Regions from separate parts of the Homo sapiens genome. Here region 2 is linked to region 1. A link means that fine-mapping ties the variant in region 1 to the expression of a gene that starts in the linked region. Tissue or cell type: transverse colon. Region 1 holds a variant in brackets; the other region holds the start of a gene. All regions are shown on one strand. Distances are from middle to middle.

The links. PIP is the estimated chance that this variant, and not a neighbour inherited with it, causes the effect.
Region 2: it holds the start of EDEM2, and the variant in region 1 is fine-mapped to the expression of EDEM2 in transverse colon (GTEx, PIP 0.98).

What each region holds. Positions count from the first base shown.
Region 1 is chr20:35,201,012-35,209,145 of GRCh38, reverse strand. All of the region lies in intron 4 of MMP24-AS1-EDEM2 (MMP24-AS1-EDEM2 readthrough), which reads left to right. It also overlaps a transcript of PROCR not described here. Among named protein-coding and RNA genes, the nearest start is that of MMP24, 22 kb to the left of the region's middle. The variant T/AT (reference allele first, on the strand shown) is at 3,747.
Region 2 is chr20:35,143,512-35,151,645 of GRCh38, reverse strand. EDEM2 (ER degradation enhancing alpha-mannosidase like protein 2) reads left to right here and starts at 4,310. Exons shown (of 11, transcript NM_018217.3): 1 at 4,310-4,494; 2 at 4,711-4,821; 3 at 6,628-6,667. The coding sequence starts at 4,388. It overlaps MMP24-AS1-EDEM2 (MMP24-AS1-EDEM2 readthrough), which reads left to right. Exons shown (of 15, transcript NM_001355008.2): 6 at 4,711-4,821; 7 at 6,628-6,667. The coding sequence starts at 4,727. RefSeq lists enhancers at 4,147-4,276, 4,525-5,128.

The sequences.
Region 1 (8,134 bases):
ACCCTCATATAGCACCTTGTACTTCATAGTATTTATTCAAACTGTAATTAAGTAATTATTTTGTGTAATTCTGTCTCCCCCTCTACACCATAAGCTCCATGAACACAAGGACAATACCTGCTTATTTCTGGCATATAGTAGGCTCTCAATTAATATTTGTTTATTTATTTTTTGGGGATGGAGTCTTGCTGTATCACCCAGGCTGGAGTGCAGTGGTGTGATCTCGGCTCACTACAGCCTCCGCCTCCTGGATTCAAGCAATTCTCCTGCCTCAGCCTCCCGAGTAGCTGGTATTACAGGTGCGTGCCACCATGCCCGGCTAATTTTAGTATTTTTAGAGGTGGGGTTTCACCATGTTGGCCAGGCTGGTCTTGAACTCCTGGCCTCAAGTGATCCACCTGCCTCGGCCTCCCAAAGTGCTGGGATTACAGGCGTGAGCCACCACGTCCAGCTGAATATTTGCTAAATGAACAAATGTAAGCACTATTTATAGTGTCGTAGTCTTTCCAGTGTTGTGTAGTGTTCTGCTGTGTGTTTTTGTGATTTAAAACCTATTGCTATGTTCACGGTAGGGGGCAGCAGAGTACGCGGATACTGAGAGAGTCCAGTACTCAGTATTAAAAGGGCAACTTCAGATAAATGACTTAACCTTTCTGAGACTATTTCCTTCTCTGGAAGTCAGGGTTAAGTCTCCTTCCCTTGGATCAAAAGAGATAAGCAGATGTAAAAGGGCTTCACTGCAGGACAAACAGGAGACAATGTGATTAGAGTCAGTTAAGATAAATATTTGTTGAATAAACAGACACAGAGCAAGAGGATTTTGGCTATACGACTGTGGAACAGATTGCAGTAGAGAGTTGACAGATTCCGAAGAGAGAAAATGAAAGCTCCAGGAAGAGACTGGCCTATGCCCAGAGCCAGCCTGTGAAGTCAGCACAGGATGTCCTTGGCATGCTGTCATCTCTGCTCCCTGATCATTGCCCTCCACCTCTACCTCTGGCCTCTAGTTTCCCATCGCTGTGCTGCCGGCTTTTCCTTCCCTTCTCTCCCATCAAAGCACATCTGTCCTATGTCCTGGCCACTCCCAGGCCTGCTCACTGCCATCCACAGTCACTGCTAGTTAACCCAATAAATGGATTCTCACTAAAGTGCCCAGGGCAGGTAGTGTATTATTTTACCATTCTCAATAACACGAATTGGACCTTCTTGAGACGGAATAACTTACTCAAAAATTATGTTTCAAATAATAATAAAGTTTAGGTTTTGTGGAAGGAGAGGAAATGGAAGGTTAACAGAGATGAAGACAGTCCTAACTTGACCGGGCGTGGTGGCTCACACCTGTAATCCCAGCACTTTGGGAGGCCAAGGCAGGCAGATCACCTGAGGTCAGGAGTTCGAGACCAGCCTGACCAACATGGAGAAACCCCGTCTCTACTAAAAATATGAAAATTAGCCAGGTGTGGTGGTGAGCGCCTGTAGTCTCAGCTACTCGGGAGGCTGAGGCCAGAGAATCACTTGAACTTGGGAGGCAGAGGTTGCAGTGAGCCGAGATCATACCACTGTACTCCAGCCTGGGCAACAGAGTAAGACTCCATCTCAAGAAAAAAACAAAACAAAACAGTCCTAACTAATTTCAGGCTCAAGAAAGAATAATTGTACAAATACAAAATCTGTGAGATATGACTTGATAGTAATATGAGGGGAAAAAGCTTTTAAAAATATTCATATGTGTATATATATATATATATATATACACAAACATACACATAATAGATTTGCATACATATAATTTAATTGTAATTTACATTCAGTAAAATTTACATTTTGGTGTAGAGTTCTGTGAGTTTTGACAAATGCAAAGAATTATGTAAACACCACCACACACAAACAAAAAAATAAAACAGTTAATCACCTTCCCAAATTCCCTTTTGTTACCCCTTTGTAGTCAAAGCCTTCCCTACCCTTAAGCCCTGGCAACACTGATATGTTCTCTATTCCTATAGTTTTTTCTTTTCCAGACTGTCATATAAAATGGAACCATACAATATGTTGTATTTTGAATTTGGCTTCTTTCACTTGGCATAATGGATTTAAGATTCATCCATGTTGTTGAGTGTATCAGTAGTCAATTCCTTTTCATTGCTGAGTAGTAGTGTATTGTATGGATGTACCACAGTTTGTTACTCCACTTCCCAGTTGAGGAATATTTAGGTTGTTTCTAGTTTTGGCAATTATGAATAAAGCTTCTGTAAACATTCACGTACAGGTTTTGGTATGAACATAAATTTTCATTTTACTTGGGCTAATTTCTAGGAGGGATTGTTGGAGCCTATGGTAAGTGTGTGTTTAACTTTATAAGAAACCTAGAGGGGCTGTATCATTTTGTTTTCCCACCAGTAATTTATGAGAGTGGCAGTTGTTCCGCCTTCTCACCAACAATTGGTATTGTCAGGGATTTTTTTCAATTTCAATAGGTGTATAGACATACCTTACTGTGGTTTTAATTTGCAATTCCCTACCAACAAATGATGTTGAGCATATTTTCAAATATTTATTTGCCATCCATGTATCTTCTCTGGTGAGGTGCCTGTTCAAAACTTTTGCCTTTTTAAAAAATTGTTTGTTTTCTTATTTCTGAGTTTTGAGAGTTTTTTTTTTTTTTTTTTTTTTTGAGATAGAGTCTCACACTGTTGCCCAGGCTGGACTGCAGTGACGCCATCTTGGCTTACTGCAACCTCTGCCTCCCGGGTTCAAGTGATTGTCCTGCCTCATTCTCCTGAGTAGCTGGGATTACAGGTGCCTGCCACCATGCCTGGCTAATTTTTTTGTATTTTTAGTAGAGACGAGGTTTCACTATGTTGGCCAGGCTGGTCTTGAACTCCTGACCTCGTGATCCGCCTGCCTCAGCCTCCCAAAGTGCTGGGATTACAGGCATGAGGCACTGCGCCCTACTGAGGGTTCTTTATAAATTCTAGGCCAGGCACAGTGGCTCATGCCTGTAGTCCTAGTGCTTTGGGAGGCTGAGCAGGAGGATCACTTGAGGTCAGAAGTTTGAGACCAGCCTGGGCAACATACAAAAATCCTGTCTCTACCAAAAATAAAATAAAATAAAATTTTTTAAAAATGTTAAAAAATAAATTCTGGATTCAAGTCCTTTGTTAGAAATGTGATTTGCGGTCAAGTGCAGTGGCTCACACCTGTAATCCCAGCACTTTGGGAGGCCGAGGTTGGGGGGGGGATCACCGGAGGTCATACACATATATACATATATACATGTATACATATGTATATGTATACATGTATATATGTATATGTAGATATATGTATATATGTACATATATATGTGTGTATATATACATATATATATATATATATATATATATATATATATATTTAGACAGAGTTTTGTCCTTGTTGCCCAGGCTGGAGTGCAATGGCATGATCTTGGCTCACTGCAACCTCCACCTCCCAGGTTCAAGCAATTCTCCTGCCTCAGCCTCCCGAGTAGCTGGGATTACAAGCATGCACCACCACACCCGGCTAATTTTGTATTTTTAGTGGAGACGAGGTTTCTCCACGTTGGTAAGGCTGGTCTTGAACTCTGGACCTCAGGTGATCCGCCTGCCTCGGCCTCCCAAAGTGCTGGGATTATAGGTGTGAGCCACTGCGCCCGGCCAATATATATATATATTTTTGGATTAACGAAGTTTCCTTCTCTAGTTTGCTGAGAGATTTTTTTTTTTTTA[T/AT]CATGAATGGGTTTTAAATTTTGTTAATGCATTTTCTTCATCAGTTAGGATTATCATGTGTTTTTTTCTTCCTTAGTCTGCCAATATGGTGAATTATGCTCATTTATTTATTATTATTATTATTATTGAGATGGAGTCTTGCTCTGTCCCCCAAGCTGGAGTACAGTGGTGCGATCTCAGCTCACTGCAACTTCCACCTCCCGGGTTCAAGCAATTCTCCTGCCTCAGCCTCCCAAGTAGCTGGGACTACTAGTGCACACCACCATACCCAGCTAATTTTTGTATTTTTAGTAGAGACGGGGTTTCACCACGTTGGCCAGGCTGGTCTCAAACTCTTGACCTCAGGTGATCTGCCCGCTTCACCCTCCCAAAGTGCTGGGATTACAGGCGTGAGCCACCATGCCTGGCTATTTTTGAATGTTACACCAGCATTAAATTACCTGGGATAAACTCCACATAGTAGTGAAGTATTATTTTTTAAAAATATATATATATTTCTGGATTCCTTTGCTAATAGTTTGTAGTTTGTTGAAGTTTTGGGGTATATGTTCATGTGAAGTATTGTTCTATAGTTTTCTTGTTATCTTTTTCAAATTTTGGCATCAGGACCATGCTGCCTTCATAAAATGAGCTAAGTTTTTTTGATTTTCTGGAAGAGTTTGTGTGGAATTGATACTATTTCTTTCTTTAACATTTGGTAGAATTTCCCAGTGAAACCATTTGGGGGCCAGGCATGGTGGCGCATGCCTGTAATCCCAGCACTTTGGGAAGCTAAGGCAGGCAGATTGCTTGAGCCAGGAGTTCGAGACCAGCCTGGGCAACATGATGAAAACCCATCTCTACTAAAAATACAAAAAAATTTGCTGGGTGTGGAAGTCTTGGCTGCAGTGAGCTGTGATTGCACCACTGTACTCCAGCCTGAATAACAGGAGTGAGTCCCTGCCACAAAGAAAAGAAAGAAAAGGAAAGAAAAGAAAAGAGAAAAGGAAAGAAAAGAGAGAAGGAAGGAAGGAAGGAGGGAGGGAGGGAGGGAAGGAGGGAGGGAGGGAGGAAGGAAGGAAAAGAAAAGAAACCTTCTGGGCCTGGAGTTTTCTTCTCTACATTGGAAGGTTTTAAACTATGAATTAAATTTTCTTTAGTACATTTAGGACTATTTCTCTGATCTGTTTCTTCTGGACTGAGTTTAGGTAATTTGTGTCTTTCAAGAAATTGGTCCATTTCCTCTAAGTTGTCAAACTTATGAGCATAGAGTTGTTTGTAATATTCTCTTATTATCCTTTTAATATCTGGAGGGTCTGAAGTGACATCCCCTCTTTCATTCCTGATATTAGTAATTTATGTCTTCTCTCTTTCTTTTCCTTGGTAAATCTGTCAAAAAGTTTATGAATTCTGTACACCTTTTCAAAGCTTTTGGTTTTATTGATTGTTCTCTATTTTTTTCTGTTTTCAATTTCATTGAATTCTGCTTTTCTAATTTCTTTTTCTTCTGCTTGATTTAGGTTTAATTTGTTCTTTCTCTAGTTTCTTAAGGTAGAAGCTTAGAGTATGATTTGAGGCCTTTCTTTTTTCTATCATAGGCATGTAAAGCTATAAATGTTCCTGTACACGCTGCATTAGCTGCAACCCATAAATTTTGATATGTTTTGTTTTGATGTTCAGTCAGTTCAAATATTTTCTGATTTACTTTAAGATTTTTTCTCTGACCCATGGATTATTTAGAAGTATATTAACAATTTCTAAATATTTGAGAGTTCTCTTTTTTTTCTTTTTTTTCTTTTTTTTTGAGACAGAGTCTTGTTCTGTTACCCAGGCTGGAGTGCAGTGGTGCGATCTCAGCTCACTGCAACCTCCACCTCCTGGATTCAAGCAATTCTCCTGCCTCAGCCTCCTGAATAGCTGAGATTACAGGCGCGCACTATCACGCCCAAGAGTTCGTCTAAAAAGAAAAACAATAATAAATAAAAGTTATGTTTATACTATATTATAGTCTAATAAATGTGCAATAACATTATGTCTAATAACATTAGACATTGCATACAATGTTATGCAATGACATTTTGTATTTTTAGTAGAGACAGGGTTTTGCCATGTTGGTCAGGCTGGGGGAGTTTTCTATTATTGATTTCTTATTTAATTTTGGTATAGCCAGAGAACACCATTTATGTGGATGATCTCGGCTCACCACAACCTCTGCCTCCTGGGTTCAAGCGGTTCTCCTGCCTCAGCCTCCCGAGTAGCTGGGATTACAGGCATGTGCCACCATGCACGGCTAGTTTTGTATTTTTAGTGGAGATGGGGTTTCACCATGTTGGTCAGGCTGGTCTTGAACTCCCGACCTGAGGTGATCCACTGCCTCAGCCTCCTAAAGTGCTGGGATTACAAGTGTGAGCCACCACGCCCGGCCTTGTGTGGTTTTAATTTATTAAAAATTGTTAAAGTTTACTTTATGACCCAGAATATGATCTATCTGGGTATATGTTCTGTGGGCACTTGGAAAGAATATGTATTCTGTTGCTCTTGAGTAGAGTGTTTTATAAATGTCCGTTATATTAAACCAGTTGATAATGTTATCCAGGTTTTATATATCCTTTTTGATTTCCATCTATTTGTTTATCAGTTATTGAGAACAGAGTTATTGAAGTCTCCCAGTTATGACTGTGGATTTTTCCATGTCTCTTTTAGTTCTATCAATTTTTGCTTCATTTATTTTGGATCTTTGTTAGTTGCATACTATATTTCAGTGTTTATCTTCTTGGTGAATTGACCCTTTTATCATTATGTAACTTCCCTATATTTATATCTTTATATTTAAAATAGATTTCCTTAAACCATAAGACATTTGAGAAGTAAAAATAAAATAAAATAGCTTTCTTGCTGATAGCATATAGTCGGGTCTTGTTTTTTTCTTTTTCCAATCCGATAATCTTTGTCTTTTTTTTTTTTTTGGAAATGGAATCTTGCTCTACCACCTGGACTGGAATGCAATGACGTGATCTCAGCTCACTGCAGCCTCCACCTCCCAGGTTCAAGCAATTCTCCTGCCTCAGCCTCCCGAGTAGCTGGGATTATAGGCACCCGCCACGATGCCCAGCTAATTTTTGTATTGTTAGTAGAGACGGGGTTTCACCATGTTGGTTAGGCTGGGGGAGTTTTCTATTATTTATTTCTTGTTTAATTTTGGTATAGCCAGAGAACATGCTTTATGTGGTTTTATTAAAAATTGTTAGTTTATTTTATGACCCAGAATATGATCTATCTGGGTATATGTTCTGTGGGCACTTGGAAAGAATATGTATTCTGTTGTTCTTGGGTAGAGTGTTTTTTGTAAATGTCCATTATATTAAACCAGTTGATAACGTTATCCAGGTTTGATATATCCTTTTTGATTTCCATCTATTTGTTTATCAGTCATTGAGAATGGACTTATTGAGTCTCCCAGTTATGACTGTGGATTTTTCCATATCTCTTTTAGTTCTATCAATTTTTGCTTCATTTATTTTGGATCTTTGTTAGTTGCATATTATATTTCAGTGTTTATCTTCTTGGTGAATTGACCCTTTTATCATTATGTAATTTCCCTATATTTATATCTTTATATTTAAAATAGGTTTCCTTAACATTTGAGAAGTAAAAATAAAATAAAATGTAATAGCATATAGTTGGGTCTTGTTTTTTTCTTTTTCCAATCTGATGATCTTTGTCTTTTTTTTTTGAAATGGAATCTTGCTCTGCCGCCCAGGCTGGAATGCAATGGCATGATCTCAGTGCACTGCAACCTCCGCCTCCCAGGTTCAAGCGATTCTCATGCCTCAGCCTCCCGAGTAGCTGGGATTACAGGCATGCACCACCTTGCCCGGCTAATTTTTGTATTTTTAGTAGAGGTGGGGTTTCACCATGTTGGCCAGGCTGGTCTTGAACTCCTGACCTCAGGTGATCAGCCCACCTCGGCCTCCCAAAGTGCTGGGATTGCAGGCGTGAGCCACCGCACCCAGCCATCTTTGTCTTTTAATTGGTGTGTTTAGACCATTTACATTTTTAAAGACCATTTACATTTAATGTAGTTATTGATAAGAGTGGATTTTGGTCTACAATTTGTTATTTTTCTGCTTGTCTCCTCCATTTTTTTGCCTCTCAATGTCCCCTTTCCTGTTATATTTTGGATTATTTGAATATGTTTTATATTCCAATTTAATATATTGGTTGTCTATATCTTTTGTGGTTTTTTTTTTTTAGCTGTTGATCTAGGGATAATAATACACATACCTAATTTTAACAGTCAACTTAAAATCAATGTTTTAACACTTCAAGTAAAACACTGACATCTCACAACTACAGGCATACCTTGGAAATATTGCAGGTTCAGTTCTAGACCACTTCAGTAAAGTGAA
Region 2 (8,134 bases), 58 kb after region 1:
ATAGGCTGTTTGGGTCCATATCTTGACTCTTCTACTTATTCGGTATGAGACATTGATTAAGTTGCTAAATCTTTCTTCAATTCTTAGAATCTGTGCTTCAGGTTTTTGGTTTATAAAATGGTGATAATGACACTTTCTCAGAGGGTTGTGGTAAGGATTAATGGTGTTGATGGATGTAAAGTACAAAGAACATTACTTGCTATGTAAATGTTCGCTATTATCAATACACGTGACTATTTTCTCCTTCTTCTTCTTGTCCCCCTCCCCATCCCCCTCCTCTTCCTTGTTTAGTTGGCAAATAGTCAAATTCCATTTGGAATGCTGTCCCACTGTTTTATTCTGCTTCATGGATGTTTCTGGGGGAAATTTGTGCAGTCGATGTGTGTTGAATTCTGTTTTCTGATTTTTTGCAATAACTGTATGGATCTGTTAATATTTTCCTTGTGCTGAGAGATAGTCTCACTCTTTCATCTTCCAGATATGGAAACTGAGTCCCCAAAAGGGAAAATGACTTGCCCGAGATCACACAGAGATAGTGGATAAACAAGTAACAAGACCAAGGGTTTCCGACAACCAGTCCAAGTCTTGTTCCACTGAACACAGAGTCCGAGGACATTGGCCTCAGATACTGATGTGATCTGAGCTCCCTCCAAACTCTATTCACCCACAGGGAAGACTTGAACACCCTATGATTCCAAGTATTCTCCAATTGACATCTTCCCCTTCTAACAAAATTGCAAGCACTTCAAGGGAAAGGACTATGACTTGATTATTTTGGAATCTTAGTTATATGCTCAGCACTGTGCCTCAAACTTTTGAGGGTAGGAACTATTGCCTATAACACCTTGGATGACTCGGGGCAGATGCTCAGTAAATGGAAACAACTGCCCTGCCTTAAAAAAAAAAGAAGAGTTGGGGAGGCAGGGAAGAGAATTAATATGTATCAAGAATTTAATATATACCAGTCACTGTGCTGAGAATGTTCACTTTCATTATCCCATTTAATTCCCAGAATTCCTTTATGGCCTCATCAATTTCTGTATTTTACAATAGGAAATTGAGTCTCAGAGAGGTAGGCAACTTACCCTGAGTCTCTTCACAAGTAAATGCTCAAGTGTGACACTTCACTGGTGGGTCATAACCTTCTAGAATCCAATATCATAAACACAGAGTGAGAGAAAGAAGAGTCCTGATACTTTCCAGAGGGTAAAACAATTTTTTTATTCTCATTAGAGAACATATAGTCACATGAATTGTGAAAACGTAAGTCATGGTTTTATTTGTTCAGTGACAGTGTGGAGAATGACATCAAGCTAGAAAAAGAATATAAAGGAAAATCATGAGTGTTTCAATCTTGCTCATAAAGAGAGACCTATCGTTACCAAATCCAGGCAACCTGAACCCACCCTTCCTGCAAAAGTTTTATCCACACTAGAATTTTGAATGGGAGACAAAAAGATAAGCTATAGGATTTATAATATGGAGAAGGTGAATTTCGTCACAGGGAAAGGCCCAGGTCTGAAAAATATTTAGTCCCTGCGCTAGGCTGGAAACAGCCACCTAAAGTCCAGGTCCTAATCTCTGGAAACTGTAAATGTTTCTCTATTTGGAAAAATGGTGTTTTTTTTTTTTTTTCCCCCTAGATGTGATTAAGTTAAAAATCTTGGAATGGGAGTTTATCCTGTATTATCTGGGTTGGGGGGGGCGCGGGGGGGGTCCTAAATGCAATTATAAATGTCCTTATAAGAGAAAAGCAGAAGGAGATGTGACACATCCACAGAGAAGGCGATATGAAGGCACGGGCAGATACTGGAGTGATACAACCATAAGCCAAGGAATGCCAGCAGTCAGGAGAATCTAGAGAGGCAAGGAACGGATTATCCCTTAGAGCCTTTGGAGTGGGTGTGGCCCTGTCAATAACTTAATTTTAGCCCAGTGAAATTGATTTCAGGCTCCTGACCTCCCAAACTGCGAGAGAATAAATTTCTGTTGCTTTAAGCCACTTGGTTTGTGGTAATTTGTTGCAGGAATCACAGGAAACGAATACAGTGCTCCTGTGTTGTTATCCAGGTCTCAGCTTACTGTCATCTCCTTTCCCTTCCATTTGGAAGCCCCAAGAAGAGTTTCTTTTTTTTTTTTTTTTTTGAGACAGAGTATCGCTCTGTCTCCCAGGCTGGAGTGCAGTGGCCTGATCTTGATCTTGGCTCACTACAACCTCCACCTCCCGGGTTCAAGCGATTCTCCTGCCTCAGCCTCCTGAGTAGCTGGGACTACAGGCGTCTGCCACCACTCCCGGCCAATTTTTGTATTTTTAGTAGAGACAGGGTTTCACCATATTGGCCAGGTTGGTCTTGAACTCCTGACCTCGTGATCCGCCCGCCTTGGCCTCCCAAAGTGCTGGGATTACAGGCGTGAGCCACTGCACCCGGCCAAGAAGAGTTTCTAAAAACATCCCAGGCTGGGTACAGTGGCTTATGCCTGTAATCCCAGCACTTTGGGAGGCCTGGCTGCACTCTGGCTCAACAAACTGAGCTATCACTTCCATCTGACTTTTTCAGCAAATAAGAGATAGCCAATCCTAGAATCATAGAAAGCTCGACCGAAAAGGATCTTAAAGATCCATTTGTTCAAACTCCTCATTATTTATAGACAAGGATGCTAGCCCCAGAGAAGGAGAGGGTCACATACACAGGTTATAGATGAGTGACAGAGTTGTAATTAACTGGATCCTAGATCTGACTTCAAATCCAGTGTTGGTTCTACCGCATGTCACACTGACCAAAGTCATGGGTGTTGCTGTGGTCTAAGGTGCTGACCAAATTTTAGAAACTTGGGAATAAGGGGAATGGAGAAATGGATCACAAACCTCCTGAAAGCTATAGTGCCCCAGGGTAGTCATTTGTCTTTTTTTTTTTTTTTTTTTTTTTTTTTTTGATATGGAGTTTTGCTGTTTTGCCCAGGCTGGAGTGGAGTGGCGCGATCCTCGCTCACTGCAACCTCCGCCTTCCGGTTTCAAGCGATTCTCCGGCCTCAGCCTTCCGAGTAGCCGGGATTTACAGGCACCCGCCACCACCCCTGGCTAATTTTTGTATTTTTAGTAAAGACGGGGTTTCACCATGTTGGCCAGGTTGGTCTCTATCTCTTAACCTCAGGTGATCCACGCACCTCAACCTCCCAAAGTGTTGGGATTACAGGCGTGAGCCACCGCGCCCAACCAGGGTATTCATTCTTACCCAAGACATTCTACAGGGCTGACAGGGGTAAAGCTTCCGGTTTGAGATGGAGACTGAAGGGACCATGATTGTGTAACCACATCCCAAATTGGGAGGAGAGAAGTGTCATGAATTCCTAGAACTGACGGGATTTCAGGAAACCTCAAGAGTGACAGCATCGGAAAATGCAAGAGGTTTTAAAAAAAAAAGAGTGGAAGTTTTGGACAAATAAATGTGAGTTGTGTCTTATACAATCAACAAGTAACTGGTTTGGGAAACTCAATATCCCTAAATAAGGGAGCAGACCACCCCTCATATTGTCTTATGCCCAATTTCTGCCTCAAAGAAAATGTAGGAGTTAAAAGAAAGACAGAAGTGAAATCAGTAGTCAGACAGCCCGGCGATGCATTCCAGGCCTGGTAATTAAAGATCGACCCCTCCTGACCTAACCGGTTATATTATCTATAGATTCCAGACATTGTATGGAAAAGCATTGTGAAAATCCCTGTCCTGTTCTGTTCCGTTCTGATTACCGGTGCACCGGTAATCAGTCACGTACCCCCTGCTTGCTCAATCAATCACGACCCTCTCACGCGGACCCCCTTAGAGTTGTAAGCTCTTAAAAGGGACAGGAATTGCTCACTCGGGGAGCTCCGTTTTTGAGAAGTGAGTCAGCTGACGCTCCCGGCCGAATAAAGCTCCTTCCTTCTTTAACCCGGTGTCTGAGGAGTTTTGTCTGCGGCTTGTCCTGCTAGGTAATAATGGTAAAGGCTGAACATTTCTCATGCTTACCCTGCCTTCATACTTAATAAGGTTGTTGAAAAAAATGAATGAGAGAATGCATTTTAAATGCTCCGTACAGTACTAGTACACAATAAGTGCTCAATACATGCTAGCTGTTATTATTAAAACATTAATTAATAACAGTAGTAACAACAGCCACTGACTTTAAGACACGTTGATCAGTGTTGCCGAAACCGTACATCCGAAGTTGCTCTTCGGCCGCGTTTCGCTGCCCATTGCATTCAGGGGCTTGTAGTCCGGAAGTGAGAGGCTGATTTCTCAGCGCGCAGGCGCAGTGGCGCGGATTCCCGGAAGAACCCGCAGCAGCTCCCAGGATGAACTGGTTGCAGTGGCTGCTGCTGCTGCGGGGGCGCTGAGAGGACACGAGCTCTATGCCTTTCCGGCTGCTCATCCCGCTCGGCCTCCTGTGCGCGCTGCTGCCTCAGCACCATGGTGCGCCAGGTCCCGACGGCTCCGCGCCAGATCCCGCCCACTACAGGTGAACTGTGACCCGCCCTTTCGCAGTTGGGGAATGGGAAGCGTGAACCCGGTCCTTTCCCTTTCCGTCCATCCCAGACCCCGACTTGCTCCGACACAGCCGCTAGGTCCCAGGGAGAAATCAGCTAGTGATTCCCACTTTCCGCCCTGTATCTTGTTCTTCCCCCGCTTGTTTTTGTGTTCTTGCCCCATGCCTGATTTCTCGTCCCCCACCCAGGGAGCGAGTCAAGGCCATGTTCTACCACGCCTACGACAGCTACCTGGAGAATGCCTTTCCCTTCGATGAGCTGCGACCTCTCACCTGTGACGGGCACGACACCTGGGGCAGGTAGTGCGAGCGGAGGGGCAAGGGGCGGCCAGGGTCTGACTCTCTGGGCCTCGGCGGGCGGGTCAGCTGGGGCTGGTGGCTTCATGGTCTCCTCACCGGCACCAGAAAGCTCCCAGCTGAGCTAGAGCCGCGCTCCCCGCAATTCTTACTATCACCTCCAGGATCCACTTAGCCTCTCGCAGTGAAAAAAAAAGTCCTGGATTAGCCGGGTGGGCTGGATCGCTGAGCTCAGCCCCAGCAGTAACAGGCATCAGCTGTGGGGACATAGGCAATTTCTGGAGTAACGAGATACCGTGGAAGGGCTCCAAGAATTAGAAAACCCACCCCTTTCATTATGTAGGTGGGCATTCAGATCCAGGAAGGAGTGTGACACTCCTAAAACTTAAGTCTTTGTAGTTGGTGTGCCCCGTGCCTGAAATACACTCCCCATTTTCCTCCCATCACTGGCTGCTGCTTGTCATTCAGATCTCAGCTCAGTATCTTAATACCCCTACGAGTTAGGTGCCATTATCCCTGTTTTACACACGAATGTGCTAAGGTCGGGAGAAATTAAACTCAAAACTTGTGATGGTTTTTATTTTTTTAAGTTGAAACAAAGTAAATACAAATGGCAAATTCAAGTGGTAAAAGATTATATACAATAAATATCTCCCATACCCTAGAATTCCAACTATTAACTTTCCTTTGTATCTGTCCAGAAATATTCTTGGTTTATACCATTATATATATAGATGTGTGTATGTGTATCTTTTTAAAATGAACTTCTTAAAGGCATAATTTACATATAATAAAATACACTCTTTTTTTTTTTTTTTTTTTTTTGAGATGGAGTTTCGCTCTTGTTACCCAGGCTGGAGTGCAATGGCGTGATCTTGGCTCACTTCAAACTCCGCCTCCTGGCTTCAAGCGATTCTCCTGCCTCAGCCTCCCAAGTAGTTGGGATTACAGGAGCCCACCACCACACCCGGCTAATTTTTTTGTGGAGACGGGGTTTTGTCATTTGGCCAGGCTGGTCTTGAACTCCTGACCTCAGGTGATCCACCCACCTAGGCCTCCCAAAGTGCTGGCGGATTACAGGCATGAGCCACTGTGCCCAGCCTACACTCGTTTGAAGTGACCACCATCACAGTCAAGATATGAAACACTTCTGTCACTTTAAAAAGTTCCCTTGTGGCCCTTTATAGTTCATCCCTGCACCACCACTGACCCTAACAATTGCTGTCTGCTTTCTGTCAGCATGTCTTTTTGAAACAGATGGAAACATACTAAACCACCCTGACTTTTTCATTAAAAACAATTCGAATGTCTTTCCATCAGCACATAGAAGTCTTGATAACAATCTTTTTGATAACTCATAGTTTTGCACTGTTTATAACACAGTTTAATCACCCATTAATGGGTGGACAGTTGGGTTCTTTCCAGCCTCTTGCTGTTCTAAGCAATACTGCCATGAACACTCTCAAACAGCTGTTCACTGTGAATTAAATTCCTAGAGGTGAAAATTGGTGAAAGGCCTGTGCTTTAAGCTGCAATCTTATACTGCCTCCCAATGGTAGAGGAGAATGCCAGACTATAGGTGATGTATTTAATTACAATTGAGCTACATCAGCCAACCCTCCCAGGTGCATTAAGTGGGTCAGAGAATACCTGCGATTTTCACTGTGGTTTCTCTGTTGTGACTGTAAGTGGGACAGGCAGAGGCATTACTTTGCCTCATTTAGTTTTAGGGGGATCAGATCTAGGGCAGCCATAATATCTGGTATTTGATTTTCTTACTAAGCGGCTGGGATTTCTGTCCTTTTGCAGTTTTTCTCTGACTCTAATTGATGCACTGGACACCTTGCTGGTAAGTATCTCGTCTGTTTCTTTTCCTTTCCACTGTTACATAACCAACATCCTTCCTCTTTTGGCAGCGTGACTGTGGGTGAAAAATGAATTCCTCTCCTAGGCCTTTTATTTGCATCTCATGATTCTGAAGCGTCCGGCTGTGGTTGCCTAGCTAGATAGGGGAAAAACGAACTACAACTTATGCAGATTCATTTATTTAGCAAACATTTATAGAGGACCTGTTATGTACGGAGAATTGTGATAGGCTTGCATAGCTCTATGGGGGATACAGAGACTTTGACATCTCCTGTTTTCAGAGGCTTACATTCTAGTGGCCATGTTCAATGATAATAAAAGGGTATCAGGCTGAGCATGGTGGCTCACACCTGTAATCCCAGCACTTTGGAAGGCCGAGGCAGGCAGATCACCTGAGGTCAGGGGTTTGAGACCAGCCTGGCCAATATGGTGAAACTCCATCTCTATTAAAATACAAAAAATTAGCCCAGCATAGTGGCACATGTCTGTTATCCCAGCTACTGGAGAGGCTGAGGCAGGAGAATTGCCTGAACCCGGGAGGCGGAGGTTGCAGTGAGCCGAGATTGCACCATTGCACTCCAGCCTGGGTGACAAGAGTGAAACTTCATCTCAAAAAAAATTATAAAGAAATAATATCAGTGACTAGTTAGTATGTTTCTGTAGGGCTTAGTACAGACATGTATTAATTCTTCTAACAACTTCTTGAGGTTAGTACCTTTACTCCTTCTTATCGTTAAGAAACCTGATGCTTAGGGATGGGCACAGTGGCTCACGCCTGTAATCCCAGCACTTTGGGAGGCCAAGGCGGCAGGACTGCTTGAGCACAGGAGTTCAAGACCAGCCTGGGCAATATGGTGAAACCCCGTCTCTACCAAAAATATAAAAAATTAGGCATGATGGCACATGTCTGTGGCTCCATTTGTTAGGGAGGAGGGTGAGGTAGGAGGATTGTTTGAGTCAGGGAGGCAGAGGTTGCAGTGAGCCGAGATCGCACCACTGCACTCTGGTCTGGGTAACAGAGTAAAACCCTGTCTCACACAAACAAAAAAAAGATATAAAAGAAACCTGATGCTTAGAAAGGTAAAAAGGGCCAGGTGTGGTGGCTCATGCCTGTAATCCCAGCACTTTGGGAGGCCAACATTGCTCAAGTCCCAGAGTTCGAGGCTGTGATGAGCTATGATCACACCACTGCACTCCAACCTGTGTAACAGAGCAAGACCCTGTCTCAAAAAAAAGACTTGGACTGGTTCAGGTCAAGTACCCACTCCACAGCTAGAGGGATGGGATCAGCCTCTCCCAAACCACAGGAGTGACTGCCGGGGAAGAGTGATTCCTCGAGGGTAAATTGAGATGTTACTATCAAAAGAAGAGAGATTGAGATTGCATTTGGCTAACGGTTTAAATAAAGAGGGTTTATTTTCTCAAGTAAAAGAAAGTCTAGAGGTAATTT